Homo sapiens: one gene and its partners. The protein of the gene in region 5 purifies or fractionates together with the protein of the main gene of each other region. This does not show direct contact. Each region holds a gene or a part of one and is shown on either strand. Other genes may lie near its edges.

The links.
Region 1: the proteins of SLC18B1 (region 5) and AP3S2 purify together in Homo sapiens (affinity purification with mass spectrometry; one large-scale study listed by BioGRID and IntAct). This does not show direct contact.
Region 2: the proteins of SLC18B1 (region 5) and SLC25A46 purify together in Homo sapiens (affinity purification with mass spectrometry; one large-scale study listed by BioGRID and IntAct). This does not show direct contact.
Region 3: the proteins of SLC18B1 (region 5) and MSRB2 purify together in Homo sapiens (affinity purification with mass spectrometry; one large-scale study listed by BioGRID and IntAct). This does not show direct contact.
Region 4: the proteins of SLC18B1 (region 5) and SPRYD4 purify together in Homo sapiens (affinity purification with mass spectrometry; one large-scale study listed by BioGRID and IntAct). This does not show direct contact.
Region 6: the proteins of SLC18B1 (region 5) and LAMP1 purify together in Homo sapiens (affinity purification with mass spectrometry; one large-scale study listed by BioGRID and IntAct). This does not show direct contact.
Region 7: the proteins of SLC18B1 (region 5) and TMEM150C fractionate together in Homo sapiens (co-fractionation; one large-scale study listed by BioGRID). This does not show direct contact.

Annotation. Positions count from the first base shown.
Region 1 is NC_000015.10:89,837,963-89,842,417, reverse strand, and holds part of AP3S2 (AP-3 complex subunit sigma-2), read left to right. Parts: intron 1-3,073; exon of another isoform or gene 3,074-4,455. UniProt on the Homo sapiens protein: Part of the AP-3 complex, an adaptor-related complex which is not clathrin-associated. The complex is associated with the Golgi region as well as more peripheral structures.
Region 2 is NC_000005.10:110,755,900-110,760,354, reverse strand, and holds part of SLC25A46 (mitochondrial outer membrane protein SLC25A46), read right to left. Parts: intron 4,360-4,455; exon of another isoform or gene 4,234-4,359; intron 3,654-4,233; coding exon 3,596-3,653; intron 1-3,595. UniProt on the Homo sapiens protein: Transmembrane protein of the mitochondrial outer membrane that controls mitochondrial organization.
Region 3 is NC_000010.11:23,105,177-23,109,631, reverse strand, and holds part of MSRB2 (methionine-R-sulfoxide reductase B2, mitochondrial precursor), read right to left. Parts: intron 1-4,455. UniProt on the Homo sapiens protein: Methionine-sulfoxide reductase that specifically reduces methionine (R)-sulfoxide back to methionine.
Region 4 is NC_000012.12:56,466,760-56,471,796, reverse strand, and holds the start of SPRYD4 (SPRY domain-containing protein 4), read right to left. Parts: upstream 3,220-5,037; 5' UTR 3,206-3,219; coding exon 3,121-3,205; intron 2,759-3,120; coding exon 2,220-2,758; 3' UTR 311-2,219; coding exon of another isoform or gene 154-310; 3' UTR 25-153; coding exon of another isoform or gene 1-24. Other genes in the region: GLS2 (glutaminase liver isoform, mitochondrial isoform 1 precursor), read left to right, coding at 1-24, 154-310.
Region 5 is NC_000006.12:132,771,135-132,774,973, forward strand, and holds part of SLC18B1 (MFS-type transporter SLC18B1), read right to left. Parts: intron 3,180-3,839; coding exon 3,088-3,179; intron 1,955-3,087; coding exon 1,859-1,954; intron 1,116-1,858; coding exon of another isoform or gene 1,103-1,115; exon of another isoform or gene 1,073-1,102; coding exon 998-1,072; intron 1-997. UniProt on the Homo sapiens protein: Proton-coupled polyamine antiporter involved in the translocation of polyamines from cytosol into secretory vesicles prior to their release via exocytosis.
Region 6 is NC_000013.11:113,313,690-113,318,144, reverse strand, and holds part of LAMP1 (lysosome-associated membrane glycoprotein 1 precursor), read right to left. Parts: intron 1-4,455. UniProt on the Homo sapiens protein: Lysosomal membrane glycoprotein which plays an important role in lysosome biogenesis, lysosomal pH regulation, autophagy and cholesterol homeostasis.
Region 7 is NC_000004.12:82,551,755-82,556,209, reverse strand, and holds part of TMEM150C (transmembrane protein 150C), read left to right. Parts: intron 1-4,455. UniProt on the Homo sapiens protein: Nonselective cationic channel with high permeability to Ca(2+). Component of a mechanosensitive cation channel, confers mechanically activated (MA) currents with slow inactivation kinetics. May contribute to proprioception.

The DNA of each region.
Region 1 (4,455 bases), on a different chromosome or scaffold from region 5:
GTTTCCCCTGGGATACAGTGTGACCTTTCAGTGTGTAGACCCCAATCCTCTTATAGTTCAGAAACACCTTAGATTCTATCTTTATGAACATATCTTTACATATTTTTCCCATTCATGTTAAAGTTTTCTTTTATGCAAATATTACATCTCCTTTGCTGTCTTTTGTAACTGTTTCTTCTCTATTTCTTTTAGCCCTTTTTGGTTTCATTTTTTTTTTCCATTTCTCTCCTTTTGTTCCTAGTGTGTTTTTAGCAGTTTCTTCTCCCTTTGCTTCTTCCAGTTTCACCTTCATTTCTGTAACAGTATTTTTCCTTTCACTTCTTTCCTCAGTTCTGCCAGTATGCAGCTTGTCTTCTCTTCTCGTCTCCCTACCTCTGCTAAAGTTCTTGTATTTCTGCTTTGAGCTCTCATTTCATAGAGACAACTATTTTATCAAGTTTTCTTTTTTTCTTTGTGTAAAATATTTTATTACCATTGTATCTAGTCCATGGAGGCCCTTTTCCAGTCTGTGGTCTTAGTCTGCCATTTGGTTTTCCTATTTCTTTCCTAATTTTTTCTCGTTGTATATTTATATAGATCCTGTTTAGATTTTTTGTATACTTATCTTTAAATAGGCAAGTTTTTCAGGGACCAGCTGTTTTGCAGGATGTTTGTTGGAGGAGCTACCAAAACTCTGTTCTGGGCTAGCTACAGTTGTTCCCTTGATTTAGGGTTCTGGGTGAGTCCGTTTACCCTTAGTCTCTAGCCAGCCAATCGAGATAGGCAAGGCGTCTCTTAGCATCTCCACAATGCAAAGGATGTCTTCTCTACTACCACAGACACCACCTCTGTGAGGCAAATGTAGCTTGCGTGATTTCTCATTTAGCCTCAACTTCAGGTCCAAGGAAGTTCCTGCCTTCCAAAAACAAGGAATTAATTTGGTGCTGGAGTGTGTCCTTTACCCACAGGAAGTACATATTTTTGCAGATCTTTCTGAGATCACCAGCTTCCCTGTCCTCTCCCTGTAGCATCCTTTCTTCTTTTTCTTCTGTGAAGCAAAGGAGTCCCTGCCTGAGCTCCCTGCTTTTGACAGCTTTTTCACCTGTTTGGGGGTTTGGAATTTTGGATATCCTGTAGTTATAACAAAAATGGAGTTTGCATTTTTATTTCTTCTTTTTGCATTTGGAACATATTTTGAACAGCATTTGAAAATGCTGACTTTATGATGCAGTGTTAAATAAGAAGTTTTAACTGACTTTTTCTGTTAACCAGCCACTAGTCTCCACGACATCATGTGTTAGGCCTTTTACTATACCTTCTCCAGAAAGCCCCCACCACCACACTGTTGTCTATCTTCGAAGTCCCTAAAGCCCAAGGAATATGCTACTTAGATATATGGAAAGCCTTTCATTCATTTAGCATGCCTACTCTGAGCGTTGTTCTAGGCCTTGGAGATAAAGCATGGAAGAATTAATACAAGATATTGACACACCAAAGACAAGTCTTAAATGATTTCATGTGGACTAGGGGTCAGGGATGAATAGAGTGGAAGACATAGTTTGGGATTCTGAGGAAGTATGATATAAAGGGTAGAACATGAGCTCCGGAATCAGCACCATTCTGCTGCTAATATACATGACATTGGGATCATTTTATTGCCTTTTCCTCATATATAAAATGTATCAATTTCTTCATATATAAAGTGAAGTCAGGCCAGGCGTGGTGGCTCACGCCTGTAATCTCAGCACTTTGGGAGGCCAAGGCAGGGGGATCATCTGAGGTCAGGAGTTCCAGACCAGCCTGGCCAACATGAGGAAACCCCGACTCTACTAAAAATATAAAAATTAGCTGGGCATGGTGGCGGGTGCCTGTAATCCCAGCTACTCAGGAGGCTGAGTTGGGAGAATCGCTTGAACCCAGGAGGCGGAGGTTGCAGTGAGCCAAGTTCACACCACTGTACTCCAGCCTGGGTGACAGAGTGAGACTCAGCCTCAAATAATAATAGTAATAATAATAATAAAGTGAAGATTATATTACCTACCTTAGATGAATGTTGTAAAATTAAGGTAAGTTACATAAAGTACTTGGTTCATAATAGATACTCAACAAGTACTACTTTCTACCCACACAGGGATTGGCTAAATAAAAGGAATAAATACTGAAAGTGCAGGTATAGAGGACTATTTCTCTCCTTTTTTGTTAAATTGTGGTAAAATATGTAACATATAGTTTCCTGTCTTCACCATTTTTAAGCTTACAGTTCTGTGGCATTAAGTATATCCACATTGTTGTGCAGTCGCCACCACCATCCGTCTCCAGAGCTCTTCATCTTGCAAAACAGCACCTCTGTACACATTAAACAATAGCCACCACTGTCCTCTTCCCCCTGCCTCATGGCAGCCCCCGTTCCAGTTTCTGTCTCTGAATTTGACTACTCTGGGTACCTCACAGGAGTGGAATCACACAGTCCTCATCCTTTTGTGTGTGGGTTGTTTCACTTATAGTATCTTCAAGGTTCATCCGTGTTACATTGTGTCTCAGAATTCCCTTCCCTTTTACAGCATCTCAATTCAGATGAAAAAAAAAAAAAGAATTCTTTTCCTTTTTAAGGCTGAATAATATTCTGTTGTATTTCTATGGCACATTTTGTTGATCCAGTCGTCTGTTCATGGACACTTGGGCTGCTTCCACCTTTTGGCTGTTGTGAATAATACTGCTATGAACATGGGTGTACACATTCTCTTCAAGTCTTTACTTTCAGTTCTTTTGAGTGTATATCCAAAAGTGGAATTGCTGGGCCATATGGTAATTCTGTTTTTAATCTTTTTGAGGAACCACCATACTGTTTTCAGAGGCCTATTTCTTGATGGGGAAGTATAAACAGTGGAATTCCCCCAGGGAATAATTTTAAAACCAGTCTTGTTTAACATTTTGTAAATTATCTAAATATGAGACTTTTACCATTAAATCTTCATTTGCATATAGCTAATGAATAATTCATATTGTATAAAATGTAAGAACACCTCGTGAGAGTGTGTGTGTGCGTGTGTGTAGACAGAACAGTGGTTAATAAAGCTCAATGTGGGCACACACGCAAGGGAATACATTTGATTTATTATACTCTGTCCTCAAGATCAGAAGTTCCCTGCACTTACTGAGGGCAAAATACAGGGAGCCAATGCCAGAGAACTTCAGATGTCAGAAGTGCACAGTGCCCAGATATGCAGACACATCTTTCTTCTTGACTCTGCATTGCTGACAGAGTAAACTGGTGGTTGACTCTAGACTCTGGACCAGTGGTTCTCAGCTGGGGTGAATTTGCCCCCTGGAACACATATGACAATTCTGGAGACATTTTTGATTGTCAAGCTGGAGGAGTAGAGACCAGGGATGCTAGAGAACAGGCCACAGTGACAGGACAGCCCCACAGCAGAGGATTATCTGGTCCCAGATGTCACTAGTACCTAGGCTGAGAAGCCCTGCTCCAGACCCAAATTACCTTCTCAGCCTTGTCTTAGCCTCTCTCCTGCATAAAGAAAGTTGCCATCCCAGCCAGACCCAGGAGCTCCCCATACCTGCCCATACACCAGCTGAATTGCTCCTTCCAACATCTTCTACCTGAAATTCTTTCCCCTACCTCTCTAATGTCAGAGCCCAGCTTCCATCCTCCCACTGTCTCTGTGAAGCTCTCTGATCTCTCTAGCCACTGTACCCTTTCTTCTCTGACTTCCCCAGGACTATCCCAGTCATTTGGCACTTAGTTAACAATAGAAGGTTGTACTTGCTGTCTTCCCAACTTGACCGAAAGCACCTTGAGGGCCATTTGATGTGATTTGGTTTGAAATATGGAGTACCATTCCTTATGAACCACAGTGGGCATCTCTGCTTTGACCCACCCAGGGCTTTCTGTGACAGCTTTCCTACCACAAAGGGGTACAGTAGTTGAGTCACCTCCGTCCCATCACAGCAGTTAGGTACACTGAGATTCAGCTTTGTTTAGATGACTGCTAGCTAGATGGAACCTAAGCCCAAATGTGACCCTTATGCTTAGAAAGGTGTTTATGCTGAATCTGCTTTCTAATCTAAGCAGTAAGAAATGAGGTGAGGAGAGGTGCAAAGGAATTGGGCTCTATCTTGCTCTGATCACGTCCCTTCAGTGGAGCACAGGCTGGAGGATCTGCCTTATAGAAGGTGGAAGACATTCATTTCAGTTGCTTGGACAGGGATTATTCTGTCATAGCTGGACCTACTTAATGACAGTCAGTGTTGATGATGGTAATATTAATAATGAAAGCCACCATTCCTTACTTAGAACCCAGTGTGTCCTGGGCACCAGGCTAGGTGCTTTACACACATTTATCTCATCCAGTCCTCACTGCAATCCTGGAAGGAGGCTGAAGCACTTTAAAGGTCATTTGCCCAGGGCCACCCAGCTAGCAAGTAGCAGAGCCAGAATTTAAACAAGAGCTGTCAGAC
Region 2 (4,455 bases), on a different chromosome or scaffold from region 5:
CCAGTTCAAAAGTTACTGGAATGATTCCAGTAACAAAGAGATGATGGTGGCTTGGACTAGAAGGTGGCAACAGAAGTAAAGTGGTTCAATTGTGCTTTTATCCTAAAATCAAAGTCTATGGGAATTACTGGTGAATTGCATTTGGGGTATGCAAGAGAAGGGTCAAGGATAACCCCAAGGTTGCTGTCCAGAGGAACTGGGGGAATAGCACTGCCTTTTATTGAGATGAAAAATTGCCAGAGTAGCAATTTGGTGAAGATCAAGAGTTCAGAAATGTTAAGTAAATTAACTCCAAATGGAGTTCACAATAGAAATTACAGAAAAAGGTACACAATGGACCTACAGATGGTTTCCAACTTACGATGTCTCAACCTAAGATTTTTCGAATTTATGACAGGTTTATTGGGATGTAATCCCATCGTGAGTGGAGGAGCACTGTATTATAAATGTGGGAGTCTTTAGTAAATAGATGATATTTAAAACTATGAGATGACAGTGAGCTTGCCTAGCCTTCTAATCCATCTTCCTACTTCTGACCCTGACATCCTTCCCACTCCAGTTTATTTTTAATGCAACAGTCAAAGAGATCCTAATAAAGATGTAAGTCAGATCACACCACCGCTCTGCTCAAACCTATCAAAGACTTTCCATCCTTCTCAAACAAAAGCCCAATTATTACAATGATTTACAATGTCCTATGTAATCTGGTCCCCTCTTACCACTCAGGCCTCATCTCCTGTATTCCCCCCTTGCTTACTTAGCACCAACCATAACAGCTTCCTTTCTACTTCTTAAGCATGTGTGATACAACACACATGACACAGTCCCACTTGAGAGTTTTTGCACCTGCTTTCCCTCTAAATACAATTCAACATTTGCTTATTTTGTGCTTAGTTAGCACCAGCCACATCGGCATCCTTCCTACTTCTCAAGCATGTATGATACAACACACATGACACAGTCCCATGTAAGGGCATTTGCACTTGCCTTCCCTCTACTTAGAATATTCTCCCAAATATGCATGTTGATCTTTACACAAATGTCACCTTCTCAGTGAGACCTTTACTTATCTTCTTAAAAAAATATTAACCGCCCCTCCCTACCCATTACACATCCTATTTGCCTTCCTTGCTTTATTTTTGCTTTCTTTAGCAGTTAATCGCCATGAAATATACCTTTTATTTAGTTGTTTATGTCTACTTTCCCCATAAGAATATAAGTGCTATGAGAACAGAGCATTTTGGTTTTGTTTGCTGTTGTATCCCCAGGGTCTATAACAGTACCTGATATAGGCAAGTACTCAATAAACAATTGATACATTTTTTTTAAAAGTTTAGCAGTTAAGATAATCTGCAAATCTGAAAGGTAAAGTGATGTAATTAAAACCTTGGTTTAAAACTATAATAAGAAGTCTGAAGTTGATTTTAGGGAATATGAGTCAATATGAATCCTTAATCAGTAAAAGGATATATATAAGTATTGCAACTTGAAAACAATCTTGTATGAGTATTGACTTTTAAAATGTGGAGACTAGTACAAGGATTTCTTTCTTTCTTTCTTTTTTATTTTTTTTAAGACAGAGTCTTACTCTGTCACCGAGGCTGGAGTACAGTGGCGTGATCTCAGCTCACTGCAACCTCTGCCTCCCGGGTTCAAGCGATTCTTCCATCTCAGCCTCCTGAATAGCTGGGACAACAGGCGCCCACTACCACACCCGGCTAATTTTTGTATTTTTAGTAGAGATGGGATTTCACTGTTGGCCAGGCTGGTCTCGAACTCCTGACCTCATGATCCGCCCACCTAGGCCTCAAGGATTCTTAATGAAGAAATAGATAACTACAAAGTTCATGATGACTGGGTAATTATGAAGGATGAAAGAAATGTAAAAATAAAAAACTTTCCTAAAACAAAAACTAAAGTTTTGAATCTTTAGTGTGAAGATAACAATAGTATCACTAATATATTGCCAAGGAGAAGAGGTTCTAAAGGAAGCTAATTTTTAGAGGGACAGATGAGATTGTTTTTAAAAGTTGAGTCTGAAGATTTAACTCACATGAGATTAGAGCTAATGATTCCTGTGAATAAATTAGCTCTTTCAGAATAATGAGTATAGGATAAAAAACAGAGGGTCAAGGATTGGGCCTTAAGGTATAAGACAAGAGATGGCAAAGGCATTATTGAAAAAAGATGTTCAAGAGAGAGAAATCTAAAGAAAAAAGAGTTCTAGAAAAGCAGACAAAAGAGATCAAAAGGAGTTAGCAAGTGGAACTTGAAGCAGGAAACAAGGAGTAAATACTGGGTTAAAAAAAACACATACACAGAAAAAACCCTATCACATAGTGAGCCGGGCACTTATATAAATAACTCATTCAATGTTACACGTCAGTTATTAAAATACTATTCACAATTTATGGATAAGAAAATTATAAAGGTTAAGAAATCTGTCTAAAGTCCCAGGTCTAATTTAAGCAGAGAAATGTGATAATGGGTCTGTCTCAAGCTAAAAATTGTTTTCCCCAATAAATCATTCTGCTTAGTTGTTTTTCCTTAAATAATTACCTTCCTGACATTTTTCCCTTACCTTTAAAATGAGGCTATCTCATACAAGTGACAACTCTGTAAATTCTATAGCACCATACAAAAATTCATCATTTATTTAACACAATGCCAAATGCAAGGGGAAGGGAAAGTATGATTTGGGTCGCAAGACACTAACTTCAGTTAACTGAAGTTAGTTCTAACAGAAATAATAATAATAATAATCATAAATCAAAGATGAATGATACAGCCAGAAAAGAAACAAGGTAGAAAAGAGTAATTAGAAGAGCAAAGGCTGATCCAGTGCGAGTTTTTACAGAGAGGGCACTCACATATACTAGAGAAAAGAATATGCTAGAGGATCTGATGTGGAAATAGAAGACAGGTGTACAAATAGTTGGATTTTGTATACAGGTGAAGTAAAAACTACCTTCATCTTACAGTTTTAAGTGTAGGAAGGAGGGTAAGACATTTAATTAAATGTACTTGAAGCGCCACCATGTGGTTAGGAATAGTAACACAAGCAAACAGAATTTCAAGTGCTAGCAGAAAATTGCTTCAGCTTTGTAGTATTTACCACACCCAATAGTATCAAATGTCACTTAAAGGCATGTTTTAAAAGAATCCTGTCAGTAAACTACCTGTGGGGACAACCTGCTTCCTGTTCGGATGATTATCCATCATGTTTATTCTCAGGTAATTATTAATTTACTGTCCAATGATAAGCCATAACCATCTGAGTTGTATGTAAGGGCCTTAAAAAGTTTATAGATTCTTTGTTTTCAGAGCAAGTTATAGGCTGTGTTCTGAGATGTCTAAATGAAGAGTATAGTTGCCTATGGAAAGGACAAAAATAATTAAAACTAGAAGTGTGACTTAAGATACCAATGGAAATATACAGACAAGCAACGTGCGATATAACTGTGATATTTATAAAATAAATATTTTAAGACATAGTCTTAAAATTTTCTGCTGAAATGTTAGATATCTACAATATACTGAATAGTCAAAAAACTATTCTTAAATAAAAAAAAAATGACAGTAAAAAAAAGCTCACCTGCACTGTTTCAATCAGACTTGCTGAATAAAAAGGCATTGCCACCACGTAAGTTAGGCTATAGAAATTAAAACAAATTTATCAGTATACTGAAACAAGATGCTTATACTAAATTTTTTAATATCTGCTTTAATATGTCAACATAATTTATAGTCAAGCTAGAATAATCTTTTTAAGGTTTTCAACTATTAATACCTACAGCCTAAAAATATTAACTTCAGAAATCTGTAACGTAGGATGCTTTATTCAACAGAGATGAAAAAATCAAATGATAAAACAAGGACAGCCTGCAAAGAAAATAGATTGGACATCTACCTACACATAGCTAATGCAGCCTATAAATCTAAAACTTAAAATTGAGGATGAGGGATCCATTCCATAGTTTGCCTTTTTAGTGATATTTGAGCAAGTAACTTTTCTGTTACTATCCTCTTATATCAATTCCCAGATTTCCCATCCAGCAGAGTTAGGCCAGTCTTCAATGGTGAGTGAAGTCCCTTTTATTATTAAAAAAAAAAAAAAACATTATACAGCTTTGCAAAGTTGTTTCCTATCACCAATATTTAGACATAGTAATATTACAACTTTGCAAGCCTGCAAAATATAGTTATTCAAAATAATATCAAGGTGGGACTTACCTAACCCTTATGGGCCAGGTCCTGGCAAGTAGTGGTTTTCAAGGTGAATGGAACATCACTAAGTAATAATGTGCTGGAATGTCCCACTGAGGGAGCCAGCAAGCTGGGGGATTTCCAATTCACAATCTTCAAAAAAAAAAATTAAAAAGTGAAGAATAAAATTCTAATCTACAAAAATGGTTACCGTTGTAAAATCACTAAGTGCCTTCAGGACTACATTTC
Region 3 (4,455 bases), on a different chromosome or scaffold from region 5:
TGAGAGGAGAACAAGGAGACAAGTCAATGAATTAGCCAAGTCAATATTTTTTAAAATGTTATTTCTCAAACTTGATTTTTTTTTTTTTTTTGAGATGAAGTCTCACTGTCACCCAGGCTGGAGTGCAATGACACGATCTCAGCTCACTGCAACCTCTGCCTCCCAGGTTCAAGTGATTCTCCTGTCTCAGCCTCCCGAATAGCTGGGACTACAGGTGCACGCCACCACGCCTGGCTAATTTTTGTACTTTTACGGGGTTTCACCGTGTTAGCCAGGCTGGTCTCGAACTCCTGACCTCAAGTGATCTGCATGTCTTGGCCTCTCAAAATGCTGGGACTACAGGCATGAGCCACTGCACCCGGCTGATGACTTTTTTTTAAAGACCATTTTTGCCCAATTTCTTTTGTCATCTCCCCTGTCAAAGAAAATTAAATAAAAAACAACCCTTGCACAAGCTGACCATGAAGATCCGCTATCACAGGGCCTGGCGGCAGGCACTGTCCCCTCCTATGGGCCAGAGGAAAGCCAGAGCACAGAACAGCTCACCAAGTGACAAAGCTGACTCAGGAAATCTTCAGATCCCTCCAGGCTTCCCAACTCAAAAAATTCACAGTTTAAACATCCAAATTCCCTGTGGTAGTATTAACAGCACATTTGCAGTGAGCTGTATAAAAGACAATTTCAAATTAACCTACTGAGCCTACCATCTGGGTACACTTGGATGTTTTCCTTCTTTAAAACCCTAAACTTAGCTGCAGAAATCCAAACAGTAGTGAGCTGGTCCTTTATGGCCGGTCCCCTCAAATGCCTGCTTCCAACACTGGCACTAGTTAGCAGCTGTGAAGAAGAGGAAGTTGGCCAGGTGTGGTGGCTCATGCCTGTAATCCCAGCACTTTGGGGGGCCGAGACAGGTGGATTACCTGAAGTCAGGAGTTCAAGACCAGCCTGGCCAACATGATGAAACCCCATCTCTACTAAAAATGCAAAAAAATGCCAGGCATGGTGGAGCACGCCTGTAATCCCAGCTATTCAGGAGGCTGAGGCAGAAGAATTGCTTGAACCTGGGAGGCAGAGGTTGCAGTGAGCCGAGATTGTGCCACTGCACTCCAGCCTGGGCGACAGAGCCAGACTCCATCTCAAAAAAAAAAAAAAAAAAGAGGAAGTTTCCCATCCTTCCCACCTGGGCTGAAGATGAATGCATGCAAAACAGGACTGCCAGTCCTAAGGCTGATCTAGAAAAGCCTTTTCATAGGATCCAGACAGCCTGGAAAGACTCAAAACATAATTTCATTATTGCAGGGGGGCAGCTGGACAGAGGAAGTGATAGATAACTGCTATCACAGTAAGCAAAATAAAAATTAAAACATCAGTGAAGGCCAGGTGCGGTGGCTCATGCCTGTAATCCCAGCACTTTGGGAGGCCAAGGCGGGTGGATCACCTGAGGTCAGGAATTCAAGACCAGCCTGGCCAACATGGTGAAACCCCATCTCTACTAAAAATCAAAATATTAGCCGGGTGTAGTGGCAGGCACCTGTAATCCCAGCTACTCGGGAGGCTGAGGCAGAATCGCTTGAACCCAGGAGGTAGAGGTTGCAGTGGGTCAAGATTGCACCATTGCACTCTAGCCTGGGCAACAAGAGCAAAACCCCATCTCAAGAAAAAAAAAAAAAAAATCAATGAAAAGGAATACTCAGCCAACATAGTTTCTGAAATGACATCTACCCACTCTCTCCTTGCCTAGCTTCCTGATGTTTCCCTCCCTCTCCAATTTTATACAAGTCCTGTAACTTATTTAGGGTTAAACTCAGCTTCTATCTCATTTCTAGTATTGACATGATAATCTAATATAAACCCAGGCTGAGCTGGGTGCTAGTGTTGCAGAGGTGGGCAGCAAAACAGTTTCTGCACTCAAAGAATTTGCTCCCTAAGTGGGAGGAAGACACACGTGAGCTGACAATTTATACCATGTGGTGACAGCTATGATAGAGATGGCATGGAGTTCGGGTAGCGCTGTACCCTTCACTACGAAGGGGGGAGTTTCCACAAAGGCTGACTGTATCAGATATTATCTGAGATGGGAGGAAGTCTTTTTATTTCTTAACCTTTTATTATTATTCTAAATTGCACAACTGATGGTTGTTTATTATAGAAAAATGCCAACACTAAGCTGACTTTTGAAGAGTAAGAGTTAATTGAATGAGGAAATGGAAGAGTATTTCTGGCAGGCAGAATACCTTGGTCAAGGCCCACATGAAAGAAGAGGGCAAAGAGGAGGATGGAGAGAGATGATGCCGGAAGGCAGGTGAGACCAGGCCAGATGGGGTTGGTTAGATCACGACAAACAGCTTAAACTGTGTCCTACTGGAAATTTGAAGCTACTGGAAACTTGTGAACTGGGTGTACGCCTGATTGGAGTTGGTTTTTAGAAAGATCGCTTGACATTCAGGTAAAGAATGAGCTGGAATGGGGCAAGATGCCACCAGAGGCAGAGGGCAATCCGACCTCCATCACACATGCAGGCCTGGAGTGTGCTCCTGCTCAGGCAGAGCAGTGGAAATAAAAGAAAGAGAAGAGATTCAAGAATACTTAGAAGAGAGAATTGAAATGCCTGGCTGCACAGGGAGGGGCCAGGGTCAGAGAGAGAATGATGTTCAAGATTCCCCTGGGATTGCAAGGTCTGCTGGACCAATGGCAGTTCACCATTCCATCTTGTCAATACAACGCACCTGCTGGAAACAGATGACACACTCAAGAGGGATGACTGCAGATAACCTCACACAGGACTGTTTACAAAGGTGCAGACGGGGCCAATGGAAATCCACAAGTGAGGGCAACGCATCCCTGGGCTAATGACTCTGAGAAGCCATGGCCTCCACTAGGCCTGTGGGACAAAGGAAGAGGGAGTGGCCAGAACCTGGTGAGGCTGCACCTGCAGGGGAGGGCTGCCTACAAGAGGGGCCACCTGCAGTACAGGAACACAGCCACTGCCATCCTGCAGCCCCACAGAGAGAACGCTGGGCTCTAGCGATTTCTCCATCCCACCTTTTGATCTCACTGTTGTCTCCCACTGGCTAAACTGAATCAATAGCTGGGGGAAAGGGAGCTGCTCACTCTTCCTAGAGCTCAGAGCAGGGGAGCCCGCGGAGAGTGGATCTGGAGAGTAGACAGAGAATGACCTGCACAAAACCTCCCTTCTATTGATACTTGACTTTCAGTTATTGCTCAGCCATCCTGTAAATTTATTCGTTGGTCTAGCAGAGTGCTAGCACATTACCGTTGCCCAAGAAAAAACATGCGGGAGGGAATTTTAATTTAGAGTCACCAAAGAGAAGCCTTCGATGTTTTATTTCTCTTCTCTTAGGTGAACAAAGCTAATGAAGGCTTACATTTCTGCAATACTCTAAAAAGTTAAACGTGGAAATGGATCCATGGAAAGGGATTTATAACATTAGTTAAAATAATGAATGATGCTCATTTTGTCAAATGGCCAAATGCAGAGAGTATATTGCACCATCTGTTTGAGAAGCCCACAGATTTATTTTCCTAAACATCTGGCAGCTCATCTCTAGGGTCTGTCTATGTACCAAGCCCTGCCTGGCTCTGTACCTGAGAATTAGGGTTGGCTTAGAATACTCTGGGAATACATACAACTGCTCACAGAGTATCATGTGGTTCCCTTGTGCAGTCTACACAAATGGCTAATGTAGTCTCTTTCCCAACAAGGGCTTTAGTAAAATCCCGCCTACAGGAAGTTTTCAAAAATACCAGCATTTCAGGGGACTTTATTGGAATGTGCTGGCCCTTCTGATGACTTTAGCATTGGAAAAACTGAGGGTGAGACCATGATTACAATGGCAGTGCATGTGGGTAGTGACATGAGTTTTGCAGGTGCTGACAAAGGAAAAAACATTCATACTCTACTATGTTTGAAGCCACAGGGCTGGGGTCCACTCTGTGGGATCTGCTTCACTAGTAAAAATATCTAATAACAAAGTTCAATTCAAAAAAGCTACATTCCAGTAGCTATATTTGGGTCTAAGACAGACCACTTGTTAAGCAACGCGGCACTATGTTCTCATTTATATGTGAGAGCTAAAGAATTTGAACACATGGAGGTAGAGAGTGGAAAAATGGATAACAGAGCCTGGAAAGGGGGTTTCCTACCCTGGAAAGCAGGGGGTAGGGGGAGGATGAAGAGGAGTGGCTTAAAGTCCACAAACATACAGTAAGAGAAAAGGAATACACTCAGTGTTTGATGGCAGAGTAGGAGGATGACACTTAACAAAAATGTATTGTATTCGGGTGACAGACACCCTAAATACCCTGACTCGATTACTATGCATTATATATGTGTAACAAATTTTCTCAAGTACCCCAGAAACTTGTATACACACACACACACACACACACACACACACAGACACACAGAGAGAGAGAGATAAATGTAGCACTGTA
Region 4 (5,037 bases), on a different chromosome or scaffold from region 5:
AGTGAATCCTTTTGCCAAGGACAGGTGAGGAATAGGCTAAAAGTGGAGGAGGGTGGGCACAGCTTCTCCACCTACCCTCCAGCCACCATGCAAATATATACAACCACCACTCTCCACGTCTCCTTTGCCTGATCATATCATTATTCCTCTCAGGTGGGGCAACATTCCCCTGGATGATGCTGTGCAGTTCAACCATCTGGAGGTGGTCAAACTGCTTCAAGATTACCAGGACTCCTACACACTCTCTGAAACTCAGGCTGAGGCAGCAGCTGAGGCCCTGTCCAAAGAGAACTTAGAAAGCATGGTATGAGCACAGGTCATGGACAGCCCCTGCTCAAGAAAAAGCATGAGCTGGCCACACATGTAATCCATAACCACCAAAAATACTATGGAGAGCTACACTGCTTCAGTGGGGACCAAGCAGTCATTTGGTGACTTAGGCTAGTGCTTTCTATGGGAGTCAAAATACCCCATTCCCTCAGCAGACAGAGTACAGAGAAGGGCCTCAGAGGACACCTGCAGTACAGCTATCCAGAGAGACTGGGCTTCAAGGTACAGCCTAATGGCTTGCCCCACTCAAAACCATCCCAGCTCTTCACCCAGGTCTCCTCTTCCTCTCCCTGAAGAAACCATCATGAGAGAGATACTCTGGTGGAGGGACTCTAGCTACCATGCACATGTACATATCCACAGAATATGGGAAGTGGGAATGGCTATATACATGGCTTTAGTAGTCTGGAGAAATCTACTCCCCTTGGCCAGGACATGCTGCTGCTACTGCTAACAGCCAATTTTATAGACAGAGAAAGTATTTTGTGTTCAAATAAACTTTAATTACCAAATCATTTTTGCTAAACCCAGTCCTTCTTTCTTCCCTAGGGGTATCTAGCTTCATCACCATCATAGAAGGTAGAAAAAGATGGAATCACAGGGTCAAAGCACAGCTTCTCTACCTACCCTACCAAACAGTACATATTCACTTACCCCACCAGGTTTTTCTCAACTCCAAATACTGCTTTAGGTTAAGTGTATTCTGCTGCCAAGGGAAGCATAGGTTTGAGTCTAAACAGGCTCTGAAACAGATTGTGCAAAACCTCAGGCCTCCTTCCTTCCTCGGGAAGTTCCAACTGTGGCAGAAATGAAGATGGAACTTCTCAAGAATAAACAGTTTTGGCCGGGTGTGGTGGCTCACGCCTGAAATCCCAGCACTTTGGGAGGCCAAGGTGGGCTGATCACATGAGGCCAGGAGTTCGAGACCAGCCTGGCCAATATGGCAAAACCCCATCTCTACTAAAAATATAAAAATGAGACGGGCATGGTGGCACACACCTGTAATCCTAGCTACTCAGGAGGCTGAGGCACGAGAGTCGCTTGAACCCAAAAGGCAGAGTTTGCAGTGAGCCAAGATCATGCCACTGCACTCCAGCCTGGGTGACAGAGTGAGACTCTGTCTCAAAAATAAATAAATAGTTTCTAGCACTCATCCCCTAGATATCCCCCAAGTGTCTCTCTTCCCCTTTGGTCAAGGTTATAACTGGGATAATGATTATGACAGACTGGCTGGGTGTCAGAGGTACAGATTTAAGGTAGATGGACTCAGGGTAAGGATAGCTACAGCTGTGTGGGGCTGAAGGTCTGTGGCACTGAGCTACTGGGGAAGGAGGGCTCTGTTTTCATTTTGACACACTGAGTTAATAAAGCACTTACTGAGGGAGCCAGAGCCCAAACTCTAAATGTGCTGTAGAAAAAGGGCCAAGTCATTGACTGCACCACTCCTTCAGCCAGAGGTAGAAAGGATTTACTCTTCAGCCATCTGGTAGAGCCCCAAGAACAAGTTACATGTGGACAAAGGGAGGGAGAGGTATCATGGTGATTAATAAATTCAAACAAAGCTGAATGATAAGACCCCAGGATGGAATACAGTCTGAGAAAGGCCTGGGCAAAGGGAGGCAGAGGGACTGAAGGAAGCAGGTCAAGGAAGATACACCCATGGTAGCCTAGGAAATTGGCAGTAGTTGGTGGGTGGGGAAAAGGAGGGTTTGGCTGTATGCCTAGCTTTCACAAGGTAGGGGATGAGGAAGATGATCATGATATTGCACAGAGGACCCAACACTGAATTGTGGGAGCTAGAGGTTGCTTGAGGCAAAGTAAAAAGGCTTCGGACACTTTCAAAAGGAGGCTGGCCAAAGGCGTGATTAGGGACTCCAGTAATGGACATACTAGAGGCCCTCGGGCACCTCAAGCCCTGAATGGGTCAGCAGCTCCCCATCCCAGAGAGCAAAGGCAGGCACCACTGGACCCCGGAAATCTGTCTGTAGCGTGTGAACCACAGAGACCTGGCTCACATCCACCAGGCTCAGCTTCTGGGCCTCATACTCCAGCAACAGCCCCACCTTCTCTGGCTGCCCAATACCCTCAACTGGGGCTTTCTCGTTGGCCAACATGGTGTACCACTTGCGCTGGGCATAGGTGAACACCCAGGAACGATCATCAACACCAATGCAGCTATCCCGGGACATGTCCACATCTGCCACTCCTATCCGGAACTGCTGGGAGCGCTTCACTGTCACTTCCCAGTAGTGTCTGCCACTGGTGACCGCTGTGTCTGCCAGCACCACTGCCCACTCCCGGAAGCGCTCCACATTCAAGGCCACCTTGGTGGGCTCCAATCCCACCAAGCCATATTTGACACCCGTATCATCTCTGAAGAGTGCCAGGCTGCTGTGGGCGGTTTTTTCTTCCAGTTTGAAACTGACGCCTGCGGGCAGAGCAAAAAGACGGGATAATAACAGGGGCTAGAACCCTAGGGCTGGTGATATATTCAGATATGAGGCAGGCAGCCATGATACACGAGCAACTAGGGAAGAGTCAGAATGCCAAGCGGGCAAGAGAGTCGCGAGGTCGCTTTACTACGGATAGCTCACGGAGCTGAAAAACTCGGATTGAGTAAGTCCCGGAATTTAAAGAAACCAAATGGTATCACAGGTTTGGAATCTTAAGACCAAGGCAGGTGGGGAAGGAAAAGACCCGAGAGGGTTGGAGTTGCTTCTCGGAGTGGGGTCTGGGAATAATAGACGGCAGCCATTCTGGAGGTAAAAGAGTAAAAAGAGATAATCCTACCTCTCTGGGCCTCTGTGGAGGCAACTCCCAATCGTTTGGCTCCCCAGCGGCACAAGCGCAAAGAACGTGCAAAAAGCAGCGCCATCTTGCGCCTTGGATGAACCGGGCACGCCTCCCGCTTACAGACACAGCCATCTGCCCGCCCGCTCCCCTAGCACGTGGTGCGCGAGGGGCGGCCGCGCAGTGTTATGACGTAGGCGACGCCCGGGGGCGGGCGGCCGCCAAGGTAGTGGTTTCTGTTCTGTTTCTGCCCGCGGTTAATGCTGCTTATTCAGTTTTTCTGCGTAGACGAACGCTGCTCACATTTGAACTACGTAAAACTTTTAGAGATATAGTGTAGCCAGATGCTTAGAAGTATAGATTTTAAAATTAGACAGTACTGTAATTAGCTTTGATCCCGGCTTCACTGTGTGAGTTTGGGCAACTCACTCCACTTTTCTGAGCCTTAGTGTTCTAATTTATAAAATAGAAATTATATACAGACCTTAGTAATAATTAAGTGAGAATAATCTAGGCCGGGCGCGGTGGCTCACGCCTGCAATCTCAGCACTTTGGGAGGCCGAGGCAGGCGGATCACGAGGTCAGGAGATCAAGACCATCCTGGCCAATATGGTGAAACCCCGCCTCTACCAAAAGTACAAAAATTAGCCGGGCGTGGTGGCGCGCGCCTGTAATCCCAGCTACCCGGGAGGCTGAGGCAGGAGAATCGCTTGAACCAGGGAGTGGGAGGTTGCAGTGAGCCGAGATTCTGCCACTGCACTCCAGCCTGGTGACAGAGCAAGACTCCATCTCAAAAAATAATAATAATTAATCTAGATATATATTGGCAAATAGCAACCATTGGGTAATTCACAGTTGTTTATAATTAATAGTAAATACATAAATACTGTTAATGTTGGTTTTGTATGTTCAAGGCTAGGAACGGATGGTTTAACTCAGCATTCAGTTTTCTGAACTTAACCAAGAGTAGCAATATTTTGGTTCAGGGTATGAGGTAGGAGATTATGGACAGCCTATATTGAACATTTCGATCTGCATTCCATTTTATTTTATTTTTTGAGACAGGGTCTCATTCTGTCACCCAGGCTGCATGCAGCACAGTGGCGCAAACACAGCTCACTGCAACCTTCATCTCCGAGGCACAAGCGATCTTCCTGCTTCAGCCTCCCATGTAGCTGGGACCACATGTGCACGCACCATGCCCCGTTAACTTTTTTGTAGAAACGGGGGTTTCGCTTTGTTGACCAAGTTGTTCTCGAATTCTCGGGCTCAAGCCATCCTCCCACCTTTGCCTCCCAAAGTGCTGTGATTACAGGTGTTAGCCACTATGCCAGGCCTACATTTTTTTAATCAGTCCACTTCTCAAGGTTCTGCTGGCCAGTGCAATAGCAACATACATCCCACCTCCATCCTCCTACCCCTCAAAAAAGGATTTTAGATATATATTTTTAAAATGTATATTCTGAGACGGAGTGTCACTCTATCACCCAGGCTGGAGTGCAGTGGTTTGATCTTGGCTAACTGCAGCCTCTGCCTCTGGAGTTCAAGCAATTTTCCTGTCTCAGCCTCCTGAGTAGCTGGAATTACAGATGCCCACCAACCACACCTGGCTAATTTTTTTTTGAGACTGAGTCTCACTCTGTTGCCCAGGCTGGAGTGCAGTGGCGCAACCTTGGCTCACTGTAACCTCCGCCTCCCGGGTTCAAGCAATTCTCTTGTCTCAGCCTCCTGAGTAGCTGGGACTACAGGCGCATGCCACTACGTCCGGCTAATTTTTGTATTTTTAGTAGAGACGGGTTTCACCATATTGGTCAGGCTGGTCTCAAACTCCTGACCTCAGGTGATCCACCCATCTCAGCCTCCCAAAGTGCTGGGATTACAGACGTGAGCCACTGCACCTGGCCTAATTTTTGTATT
Region 5 (3,839 bases):
AATAGAAAGAAGAAAAAGTATTCAATAGTGCAAAAAATAAATAATTACTTCATGAAAAGCTACATGATCCTTCAATTGTAAGTCTTCATTACATTGGAAGATAAGTACTAAAGATAAAGCTAATTCCTGGGCACAGCATTCAGTAAAAGAAAATAATTCTACCTGATAATGACATTCAAAATTTTTTAACAATTTTGAAATTATTACTGCTTCTGAAAAGTTGATGGCTTATATAAAAATAAAAAATATGAAACAGATTTAAAAAATTCTTTATATTATTCTATTCTCAGTATTTGCAACTAATATAACTCAATTCAAAACAATATATTACATTGTTAGCATAGTTACCCTTCTGGTAGAAGGTAAAAAATAAACAAATGAATGAATAAATGAATAAATTGTAAAAATCAGAGACATGTTTCTATTAAAGGAACTTATAAATACCACTCAAATAAGATAAAGTATATGAAACCATTTTGACTAAGTATTAAACTGTTGGTATAGGCATTGATTGTTGAGTGAAAGGGTATGGATTAGAACTCTGGCTTTCCCCTAGATGAACTGTTTGTCTTTGAGAAACTCATCTGATCCCTCAGTGTTTCAATTTCTTCATCAACATCAAGCAGGGATAGTATTAATATTTTCCATCTTGCAAGTATGAATGAAATTAAATGAGGCTGGGCACAGTGGCTCATGCCTGTAATCCCAGCACTTTGGGAGGCCAAGGCGGGCAGATCACCTGAGGTCAGGAGTTCAAGACCAGCCTGGCCAACACGGTGAAACCCTGTCTCTACTAAAAATACAAAAATTAGCCAGATGTGGTGGTGGGCACCTGTAATCTCAGCTACTCAGGAGGCTGAGATAGAAGAATCTCTTGGACCTGGGAGGCGGAGGTTGCAGTGAGCCAAGATCGCACCATTGCACTCCAGCCTGGGTGATGAGAGTGAAACTCCATCTCAAAAAAAAAAAAAAAGAAAGAAATTAAATGACTACTCACCCAATTGACCACATTGCACTAAAAAGACCTGATACAAGTCCCAATGTACTTAATCCCTCTTCAAACCCATTTTCACTGCAAAAAGAGACATGAGTGTATCCATTATTAAAAGGAAAACCTGTGTGAAAGAAAAAATTGTATGATAGATCAATTAAGATAAACCAAGGATAATCTGGAAAAAAACCAACAGCAAGAATACTCTGCTTCTAAGATAAAAAGCAAATCTTATTTAAAAGAATTTTCATAGTTACATTTACTCCATGGTTTTCTAGAAATAATTTTTCTGCATATATATATGATATTAAGAAGCATGGCTCATTTGCATTAAATACTTATAAAAATATATAATTAAGAAATTCTTAAAATGAGATGAAGATGGAAAGAGAACAAAGGCAACTTTTAAAAAACAGAGATAGTTCCTTATTCCCATGAGAACTATTGAACTGACCCAGCACAGCCATAGTACTTAGTGTTCTTCATCATCATGCCTATTAAACAAAAGAATGATGACCAGGTGACAGATGCTGGTCACTCTAGGCTCTCTCATGGACCTCCTCCATGAAAGAGGAACAATGCTGAGACCTATCTATTTTGCTTTAGCTTTTCAAAATTACTTACATACTGAGGCATAAACCAAGCCAGACATCTGTCCACAACCCATTTTAGCTATTAATGTACTATTATCATTTCTATTAGTGTATTATTACTATTTATATCATAATATCATATGCTACAAAATCATGAAGATTTAACATTGGGGCAAAAATATCCAACATGCTGCAAAATTGAGAAATTCAAGAAAGCCTGTGATACTTACTACTTATTCACAATACAGCTCTTCAAGCAATGGAAGTAACTTACTGTGCACAACTGAGAATTTCCGGGAAAGTTGGAATTATACTCATTCCAGCAGAGAGGCCACTTACAACTAATATCAGCACCAGCAGCCAGAGCTGACTGCAAAAGGGTTTTGGAGAAAACAAATACAAAAAGAAAAACATTAGCGTTTTAACAAACACAAAGCTTAATGCTAAGGAAGTGAGGATCCCTGATAAGTTATTTCACCGATTATGTGCCTAGTCTCATTCCCTTTCCCATCTAACCCATTTCATTCAGTTAGAGTGTCCTTTAGCTCCTTACAGTTTTGGGGGCGGGGGGGTGGGGGGGAATTCATCCTGATATCTCCATCTCTTTGGTCCTTTGGTTACACATATCACATATCTGGAGCCAACCTGGCTTCTTCTCACCAGACAAAATCCCTTCAAAATTGGTGAAAACGTCAGTACTAAAACTGTTCTTTCAATCACTCGGCTTTGAACTTCAATTAATTTAAAGATGGCATAGAAGGAAAGAGGTAAAAGAAGAGTCAGGAAACACATTTGTTCCATGTGAGGAGACTATGCCAGTTACTTAATATATGTTACCAGATTTAATCCTTGTAATGTAAGTACTATTATCAGCTCCTTTTTGTAGATGAGAAAACCGAGGCTCTTGGAAGTTAAGTGGTTTGCTTATTAGTACATGGCAAAGCCAAAATGTAAACTCAGGTCTGAAGGACTCTGAAACCCCTTCCTTTCCAGGTTACTATGTTTTATCCCAGAAGTACCTGAAAAGGTCTAAGAAGTTCAGTTTATTTTAGCAACTAAATTACATTAAGCAAGGTCTAATAAGCAGCTACTACATGCTAAGGATGATACAGAAAGAAAAATAGATTTGGTCCCTGCCTCAAGGAAAAAGAAAAGAAAAAAAAAACAAAAATATATTCTAAGAACTATCAACTAAAGGTAAGTAGCAACAAATTCTATTTTAAAAATATAACAAAAGTATAAACAAGTATGTACAATTGAAATACAGAAGGAGAATATGCATTTTTGTCATTTGAGACAGATTTTATGCATTTTTTTCTGTTGTCCCACTGCTAGCTTCTAGTAGGGTAAAATATTGTCAGCCTAACAATTCAATAGAGTCCTAAAGTTAATTATTTAAATATTAATGTTCAAAATACTAAACTATACCAATGTTAAAACAAAATTTTTCGAAATAATTCCTAATGTTATTTGGCCAAACATACAGAAGAAGAAAAAAATTACCTTTTAATATGCAAGATTGGGACAGGCCCTAAGAGCATGTAGCACCCGGCTGTGATTAAGTTGCCAAACACCAGAAGCCATTTCCTTAGAGGCTGGTAAAGGAGAAAGAGAGTCAAAATGATTCTTAGAGGCAAAGACCCTCCATAATCAAACAACGTAAAACATTAGTAAAAAACACAAATCATGATATTCAAAAACCCAAATACAATGAAGAAAACAAAACTTTACATTTAAAAGAAAGTAAGGAGATGATAAACTCGCAAGCAATGACGATATATAACAAGGCAGAAAGTGAACAAAGGACAAAGATTTCTTAGCAGGGGAGTGCATTGCAGATCAGATTTTGCACATGATGAACTATTACAAATATAACAACGAAAAAACTCATTATAAAAAGCAGTAACCGGCCAGGCACGGCGGCTCACACCTATAATCCCAAAACTTTGAGAGGCCGAGGTGGGAAGATCCCTTGAGCTCACAAGTTTGAGACCAGACTAGCCAACATGGTGAAACCCTGTCTCTATTAAAAAAATACAAAAATTAGCTGGGCAGGGTGGTGGACATCTGTAATCCCAGCTACTCAGGAAGCTGAGGCAGGAGAATTGCTTGAACCTGGGAGGCGGAGGTTGCAGTGAGCCAAGATCACACCACCGTACTCCATCCTGGGCAACAGAGCAAGACTCTGTCTCAAAAAAAAGCAGTGACCACAAAAAAAACCCACCAAGTATTAATAGTTACAATACCTAGAAAAA
Region 6 (4,455 bases), on a different chromosome or scaffold from region 5:
GGCAGAGAGGAGCTGCAGTAACCACACCAAACTCTGAAGTGAGAGGCACTGACGGCCACTGGGAGCCGTCCCAACCTGGGATGTGCTCAGGGACCCTTGCTCACTGCCCTTGGCGAAGCTGCAGGTTGACCAGTCCTTTCCAAAACAGCTTCACTTGCTGGGCGCAGTGGCTCATGCCTGTAATTCCAGGGCTTTGAGAGGCCAAGGAAGGAGGACTGCTTGAGCCCAGGAGTTCAAGGCCAGCCTGGGCAACATAGGGAGACCCCCATCTCCACAAAGTTTTTTTAAAAAATGAGCCAGGCATGGTGGCATGCGCCTTAGTCCTAGCTACTCAGAAGGCTGACTAGGGAGGGTCACTGGAGCCTGGGAGGCTGAGGCTGCAGTGAGCAGTTATTGTGCCACTGCACTCCAGCCTGGGAGACCCTGTCTCAAAAAAAAAAAAAAAAAAGCAGCTTCACGGTTCCTTTATAAAATGTTACAGACCAGGGTTAAACAGGCAAAAGTTAAATGTGCAAAACCGGCCAGTCTTGTCCAAATTCTAGTCTAGATGGCCACACGACGCACAGAAAAAGTGTAACCTACGCTGCTTTGACAATTGTTTTTCACCTGTGATCCATGTGGCACATTCATTTCCCACCCTGTTTCTGTAGAGTGGTCACAAGAAGCTGGAAACACAAATAAAACATCATCAGGTCTAACCACCAGTTTAAAAAACTGGAACTTGAGAAATAAGTGTGGATAAAATGCCCTCGTCCTTCTACCTGAATTACAAACGCAAACCCACACTCTCCTTCCCTGAATGCGTACTAAATACCAAAGTCTTTCCTGCTGAGGGCGGAGGACAGTGACGGAGAGCTCATCACGGAACGCACTGGAGAGTGCCCTGCGCTGCCCGGGGGGAGATGGTGGCACAGGAGCCTCTGGGGAGACCTGAGGGTCCACTGTCACACCTCCTCCAGCACCCTCCGGAGAGCAGCACACAGCCGGGCCTTTCCAAAGCTCATGTGCTCTGAAGGCCCCTCCTCCTCTCCCGGCAACAGCAGATACTCACATCAACCTGCAAGCTGCAATTCAGACCCTCAAGGGTGTCTGTGAGGATGAGATTGGTTTGCACCCAGGTTCCCGACTCATAGCTCCCACAGCCTCTCTTACAGTTTTTTGTGACAATGTTGGGTGTGTCAGGCCTCTGACCTTCTCCTGCCCCTTTCACCTGTCCTGAGGGACTCTCATCCTCTCCGCCTTTCTGATGGTAGTTCTTTTTTTTTTTTTTTGAGACAGAGTCTCAGTTGCTCTGCCACCCAGGCTAGAGTGCAGCGGCGCCATCTCAGCTCACTGCAACCTCCACCTCCAATGTTTTACCATCGATTCCTTCCATTTAAGCTAGGAGTCAGACTCTGTTCCTAGGAATGAAAAAAAAATGCTGCAGCTGGGCACGGTGGCTCACGCCTGTAATCCCAGCACTTTGGGAGGCCGAGGCGGGCGGATCACGAGGTCAGGAGATCAAGACCATCCTGGTTAACACGGTGAAACCCCGTCTCTACTAAAAATACAAAAATTAGCCAGGCGTGGTGGCGGGCGCCTACAGTCCCACCTACTTGGGAGGCTGAGGCAGAAGAATGGCGTGAACCCAGGAGGCGGAGCTTGCAGTGAGCAGAGATCACGCCACTGCACTCCAGCCTGGGGTGACAGAGCGGGACTCTGCCTCAAAAAAAAAAAAAAAAAATCATGCCAAATTGGGTGGGAGATGAGACACGGTGACCTTCATTTTCAACTCCTAACAGGAGTCAGGCAGTCCTCTGATTCATTCAACAAGCGTGCACCTATCAGACCCTGAGGATAAAAGACGAAGACACCCCACTCCTCCCGGTGAACTCATAAACCCAAAAGCCTGGCTGAGCCTCACTGTAGATCTGCTAACCCCATATGGGCCTGGGCTGGAAATCCGGTTTGGATGGATATCTGGCTGACTCCAGCCTCAGGCAGAGCTGCACTCAGACCCTCTGGAGTGACAGTCATCTGCCCTACTTTGTTTTTTTGTTTTTGAGATGGAATCTCACTCTGTCAGCTGGGCTGGAGTGCAGTAGCATGATCTCAGCTCACTGCAACCTCCACCTCTCGGGTTCAAGCAATTCTCCTGCCTCAGCCTCCTGAGTAGGGGGGACTACAGGCACCTGCCACCACGCCCGACTAATTTTTATATTTTTAGTAGAGACGGGTTTTCGCCATGTTGGCCAGGCTGGTCTCGAATTCCTGACCTGAGGTGATCCACCCACCTCGAGTTCCCAAAGTGCTGGGATTACAGGACTGAGCCACCGTGCCCAGCCACATGTGCCCTACTTTGAAGATACTCAGGAAGGAAGGTACAAAACCAACAGGAAAGTCCATTCAAAGGTGGCTTGTGCTTCATTTCCTTTTAAAATAAAATCTATGAGGTCCCCGAGCTTTTTTAGATAAGATGATGTATTGAAAGGCAAGATGGGCCGGGCACGGTGGCTCACACCTATAATCCCAGCACTTTGGGAGGTCAGGAGCTCAAGACCAGCCTGGCCAACATGGTGCAACGCCCCCCTCTACTAAAAATATAAAAATTAACCAGACGTGGTGATGTGCACCTGTAATCCCAGCTACTCAGGAGGCTGAGGGAGGAGAATCGCTTGAACCCGGGAGGCAGAGGTTGCAGTGAGCCGAGATGGCACCACCGCACTCCAGCCTGGGCAACAGAGCAAGACTCCCTCTCAAAAAAAAAAAAAAAAAAAAAAAAAGACAAGATACATGAGGCTTTCTGGTGAAGCGCCACCCAGGCAGGAAGCCCAGCCTCCAGGACGCCGCGCCCCAGGCACACCGGCATCTCCACGCTGGTTCCCTCCAGGAGGCCCCGCCCCAGGCACACTGGCATCTCCGCACTGGCTCCCTCCAGGAGGCCACGCCCCAGGCACACGGGCATCTCCACACTGACTCCCTCCGGGAGGCCACGCCCCAGGCACACGGGCATCTCCGCACTGACTCCCTCCAGGAGGCCACGCCCCAGGCACACCGACATCTCCACACTGGTTCCCTCTAGGAGGCCACACCCCAGACACACCGACATCTCCACACTGGTTCCCTCCAGGAGGCCACGCCCCAGGCACACGGGCATCTCCACACTGACTCCCTCAGGAGGCCACGCCCCAGGCACACTGGCATCTCCACACTGGTTCCCTCCAGGAGGCCATGCCCCAGGCACACGGGCATCTCCACACTGACTCCCTCTAGGAGGCCACGCCCCAGGCACACTGGCATCTCCACACTGGCTGCCTCCAGGAGGCCACGCCCCAGGCACATGGGCATCTCCACACTGACTCCCTCTAGGAGGCCACGCCCCAGGCACACCGACATCTCCACACTGGTTCCCTCCAGGAGGCCACGCCCCAGGCACACGGGCATCTCCACACTGACTCCCTCTAGGAGGCCACGCCCCAGGCACACCGACATCTCCACACTGGTTCCCTCCAGGAGGCCACGCCCCAGGCACACGGGCATCTCCACACTGACTCCCTCTAGGAGGCCACGCCCCAGGCACACCGACATCTCCACACTGGTTCCCTCCAGGAGGCCACGCCCCAGGCACACGGGCATCTCCACACTGACTCCCTCTAGGAGGCCACGCCCCAGGCACACTGGCATCTCCACACTGGTTCCCTCCAGGAGGCCACGCCCCAGGCACACGGGCATCTCCACACTGACTCCCTCTAGGAGGCCACGCCCCAGGCACATGGGCATCTCCACGCTGGTTCCCTCCAGGAGGCCCCGCCCCAGGCACACGGGCATCTCCGCACTGGCTCCCTCCAGGAGGCCACGCCCCAGGCACACCGACATCTCCACACTGACTCCCTCCGGGAGGCCACGCCCCAGGCACACCGACATCTCCGCACTGGTTCCCTCCAGGAGGCCACGCCCCAGGCACACGGGCATCTCCACACTGACTCCCTCTAGTAGGCCACGCCCCAGGCACACGGGCATCTCCACACTGACTCCCTCCGGGAGGCCACGCCCCAGGCACACGGGCATCTCCACACTGGTTCCCTCCAGGAGGCCACGCCCCAGGCACACGGGCATCTCCACACTGACTCCCTCTAGGAGGCCACGCCCCAGGCACACGGGCATCTCCACACTGGTTCCCTCCAGGAGGCCACGCCCCAGGCACACGGGCATCTCCACACTGACTCCCTCTAGGAGGCCACGCCCCAGGCACACCGGCATCTCCACGCTGGTTCCCTCCAGGAGGCCATGCCCCAGGCACACGGGCATCTCCACACTGACTCCCTCCAGGAGGCCACGCCCCAGGCACACTGACATCTCCACACTGGTTCCCTCCAGGAGGCCATGCCCCAGGCACACGGGCATCTCCACACTGACTCCCTCCAGGAGGCCACACCCCAGGCACACTGACATCTCCACACTGGTTCCCTCCAGGAG
Region 7 (4,455 bases), on a different chromosome or scaffold from region 5:
GGTCAGGAGTTCAAGACCAGCCTGGCCAACATGGCAAAACCCCGTCTCTACTAAAAATACAAAATTAGCCGGGTGTGGTGATGTGTGCCTGTAATCCCCCCTCCAAGAAAAAAAAAAACAACACTAGAAAAACAGGACCCCGGACCCCTAGGTTCAAATCCTAACTCTGCACCACTCAGTCCATATGTAATAAGCAGCATATATGCATATTTATTATTTGCATTATTGTTACATAAGTGTATATGTGTATACCGGTTCATGATGTAAAATATTGCCTATGAAACTAGGCTTGGGATCCACTTGAGGAAACACTGTCCTAAGACAAAAATAATAGCTAATAGTGAGTAACATTATTGAGTGCTTAACAAGTCCTCCAGCTGAATGCTTTGCATCTTATCTTGTCTCTCACAACAGTCCTTTGGTGTAGGTATTGCCATTATCCCGCAGTACCTACATCCCAGTAAGTAGTGAAGGCAGAATAGGAACCCACGCAATCTGGTGACAGCCCAAGCGTTCAACCACCTCACCTCCCATCTTACAATGTGATAGCGATACATAGATGTACATCTACAAAACTGTGAGGCTCAAAAATTGTAGAGCATTGTACAAGTGCGGAAATAAGCTGATGCCAGTTATTTTCTGTGTAAGAGGAGGCCTGATGGGTGATAGGGGAATCATTGCACATTTAGGCAGGAAGAGACCTCACTGCTGCCAGCCTGTGGTCTCTGAAGGTTAACGCCCTTGAAAAAACAGCTATATGCCCAAAGAAATATGCTTGTCCCAGAGACTGACTACAGATTTTGTCTCCAGAGCTGTCTTCCTTCCCTCCTAACCACTTCCTAACTTCTGCACACATTTGTTTTTAGCAGATAGTGACAAATGGTCTCAGTGGATATGTCTGTCTTATAAATCTACCACTATTTACTACATCCTAAGTTATTTGTCTTTTCAAAATCACCTCCTGCCCACAAGTGCCTCGTGACATAGTTTTAATAAAATAAATAGAAAACAATGTTGTTTTAAGAATTTCATATGACAAAAGAAGTCTTGAAAGTGAGGCTGGAAATATTTTTTCTCCAGTGCAATCTAGAAAGTAAAACTAATTTCATTTTGGAAGTAGATTTCAGTTTTCCTTAAAGGTCAAACTTAATGTAATCGGATCACTTAAAGTCCATAGACTTTGTCAGGTAGACTAGAAGAGGCAACAGCTTGCCATCATGCTTACTTTCCTTTAAAAAGTACAGAAGCTGTGTCTAACGTGAAAAATTCTAAAGCTATTCAGATTTTGTTCAAGGCTGTAGAATCTTCCATCTCTGAGGACAGTGATCCAGACTCTATCTGTGGAATAAAAAGGGGCAAGATGAACTGCCTTTGAGAAAACATTGAAAGTGGGGTAATACTTTTAGACAGGTGTAGACAAAGCTTAAGAAGTAACTATGCTTAACTATGGCGGTATAGGAAATTAGCCCATACTTTAAATGATATTATTTAACTTTGAAGCAATTATAATGAATTATAATGACAATCAACTGAATATAAACATAAATGTCTCTAAAAATAGCATAGCTTTACTATTCACCAAACATTTCATTTATTAACAAAGTAGATTTCGTACTCTTTTTTTACACTTATGATGACTTGACTGCCAAAGAAATATTTAAATGGCAATAATTAGAAGTTTTAAAGCATAAATTAAAACTGTATGTAGCTAAAATTAACATATATTTTTTAAACTGTGCTGGTTGATAAAATAGTCTTTCAAGTTATTTTCATTCTGTTGATTCATGAGTGAATAGTGTTAATTAAGAAATGTTGATACCATTGTAATGCAATCCCAATAGAAATAGTATTTTTTTACTGAACTTGGAGTATTTGCAAATTAAAATTAGAATTCTGTAATATAATCATCCTGGAATTTCTAATGGAAATATATCTCCTGGAATTTCTAAATTCTAGTTTGCACTGAAACTTAAAGTATATTTATATAGAAACACTGATAACTAAAATATACCTACATGTAGTAGCAGGAATATTAACTTGTGGGTGACATTTTTTCTGCCTTTGTGGTATTATGTTCCCACATACCATAGACTTCAAAAGTATGGCATTTTGAAACATTTTCCAGTCTTGTCATTGACAGCACAGTATTCACAAAAACCATATTTATCTCCTGTAATTTTAGCAGCTAATAGAATTGTTCTTGAGGAAGCTGATTATCTTTTCTGTGACATTTTGATTGGTGTTTCCCCATTTTAATTTCAGCTTATATGTGGCATAAAATTGATTTATATGAAAAGGAGTGGCTTGCCATTTTATAACAAAATTTTGATTGTATATGTATGCACATAAAAATAAAGATGAAAATTCTCCATTAACTGATTCGCAGAATGATACAGTTATGATCAAATAGTGGCATATCGTGATCTTTTAAGATCAAGCCACTGACCCAAATCAGTGTTCACTTACAGAATCATAAATGTAGCAATTCAGAAATGTTGCTTTTTATTAGCTATTGGACAATATTTGTGAAGTCCCTAGCACAGTCCTTGGCTCAGAGTGACTTTTTTTCACTCTTCTTTCTTGTTCATAACACAAGTTCTAACTTATTTTATCGAAATGGGAAATTAAAGAGGATTTTCTGGATGATAACTGCTCCCCTGTTCAGTGTCTCAGAGCCAGAAAATGCCTTTGGAAGGCACGCAATTTATTTCTTAGAGTCTTGGCTTGACCATAGCCATCACAGAAGGATGAGACTCCATTCCACTTTGGCCTATGAATATTTTATATTAGTTCTCAACATATTGTTTGTCCAAGCCAACTTAACATGACTCTGATGTTGTACCTTAAGGCTTACTTCGGTTTCATCCGGCTTCTAGTTTGTTTGCTTGTTGCATATTTACCTTGCCTTTCCAAATAAATCATTATCTCTTTGTGTTTAGAAATTATATTAAGTAAATGTTTTTGTCTTAGGGCATTTGATGTTTTTTCGATAGGAGTCAGCTATTTTGTAAATAAAGTCCAATTGGTACACAGCCATACCCATTGTTTACATGTTACCTGTGACTGCCTCTACATGAACACTGAAGAGTTGAGTAACTGGAACAGAGACCAGGTGGCCCATAAAGGTGACAATGCACTGGCTAGCCTGTTATTGACTGAATTTTTAATTTTGATTAATTCAAATTTTAATAGCCTCTGTGGCTACTGGACAGCAGTTTCAGATGGAACACAAAGGTGTTCTTTCCTCCAGGCCAGTTAACTAATGTGATCTGGCTTCTTGTGCTGCCCTAAGATGCAGCACCCTTCCACTGGGTTCTTCAGACAGACCATTGACCTTTGCCCATGGCTGGCCTGGGCAGACCCTGGACTGAAGAAGTTCTTAATGAGTTGCTACTTTAGACAGCACCACAAGCCCAGAAGAGATGGCAAGCGAGGCAGGGGGCAGAGGTTCTCAACCATGGCTGCACAAAAAATCATCTGACGAACTCTACAATTCCAGCGGCACCCCAAATCTATTAAATCAGAATCTCTGGGTGGGTCGGGGAGCTCAGACACCAAACTTTTTTTTAAAAGCTTCCCAGATGATTTCATTGTGCTCTACTGGCTAGGCAACATCACAGGTGAGCTAGGTAGCCTGTGTACTTCAGAATTCCACCAGGTCATCACAGGCAAGCTTATGGGCAGATGGGCAGGGAAATGGACACATGAAGGCCAGTGGACACCTAGCTTAGCTTAACAGGAAAGCTCTGGTGGGGACTGAGCTGTTTTCCCACCTGGTTTCTCTAGCACCAGGGCCCATTTGCTCAGTAGGGCCAAAGTGTAGATTTGTGTGTGACAGAGGTGAGCTTCAAAGAAGGAAAAATGCAGGATCTTCCAACTCACACATCCAGTGCTTTCTACTTATGTATTCAAAAACATTTATAGAGCACATTTTAATACATTTTTGTGTTGCTATAAAGGAATACCCGAGGGTAGTGGGTAATTTATAAAGAAAAGAGGTTTATTTGGCTCCTAGTTTTGCAGGCTGTACGAGAAGCATGGTGCCAACATCTGGTTCTGGTGCAGGCTTCAGGCTGTTTCCACTCATGGTGGAAGGTGTGGGGGAGCCAGTGTGTGCAGAAATCACATGCCGAGAGAGGAGGCAACCAGAGAGAAGGGAGGGAGGGGACAGCCTCTTTTTAACAACCAGCTTTCTTGGGAGCTCATAGAGTGAAAACTTGCTACTGTGAGGTTGCTACCAAGACATTTATGAAGGATCAGCCCCATTACCTAAACCCCTCCCATTAGTCCCCACCGCTAACATTGGGTATCAAATTTCAACATAAGGTTTGGAGGGATCAAATATCCAAACTATACCAGAGTGCCTACTGCATGTTTAAGATATGCCACACTTATTCAGTCTAGTGGGGTGACTGCCATGTAAACAGTTACCATACAGTGGGGTAAGCATGCTAA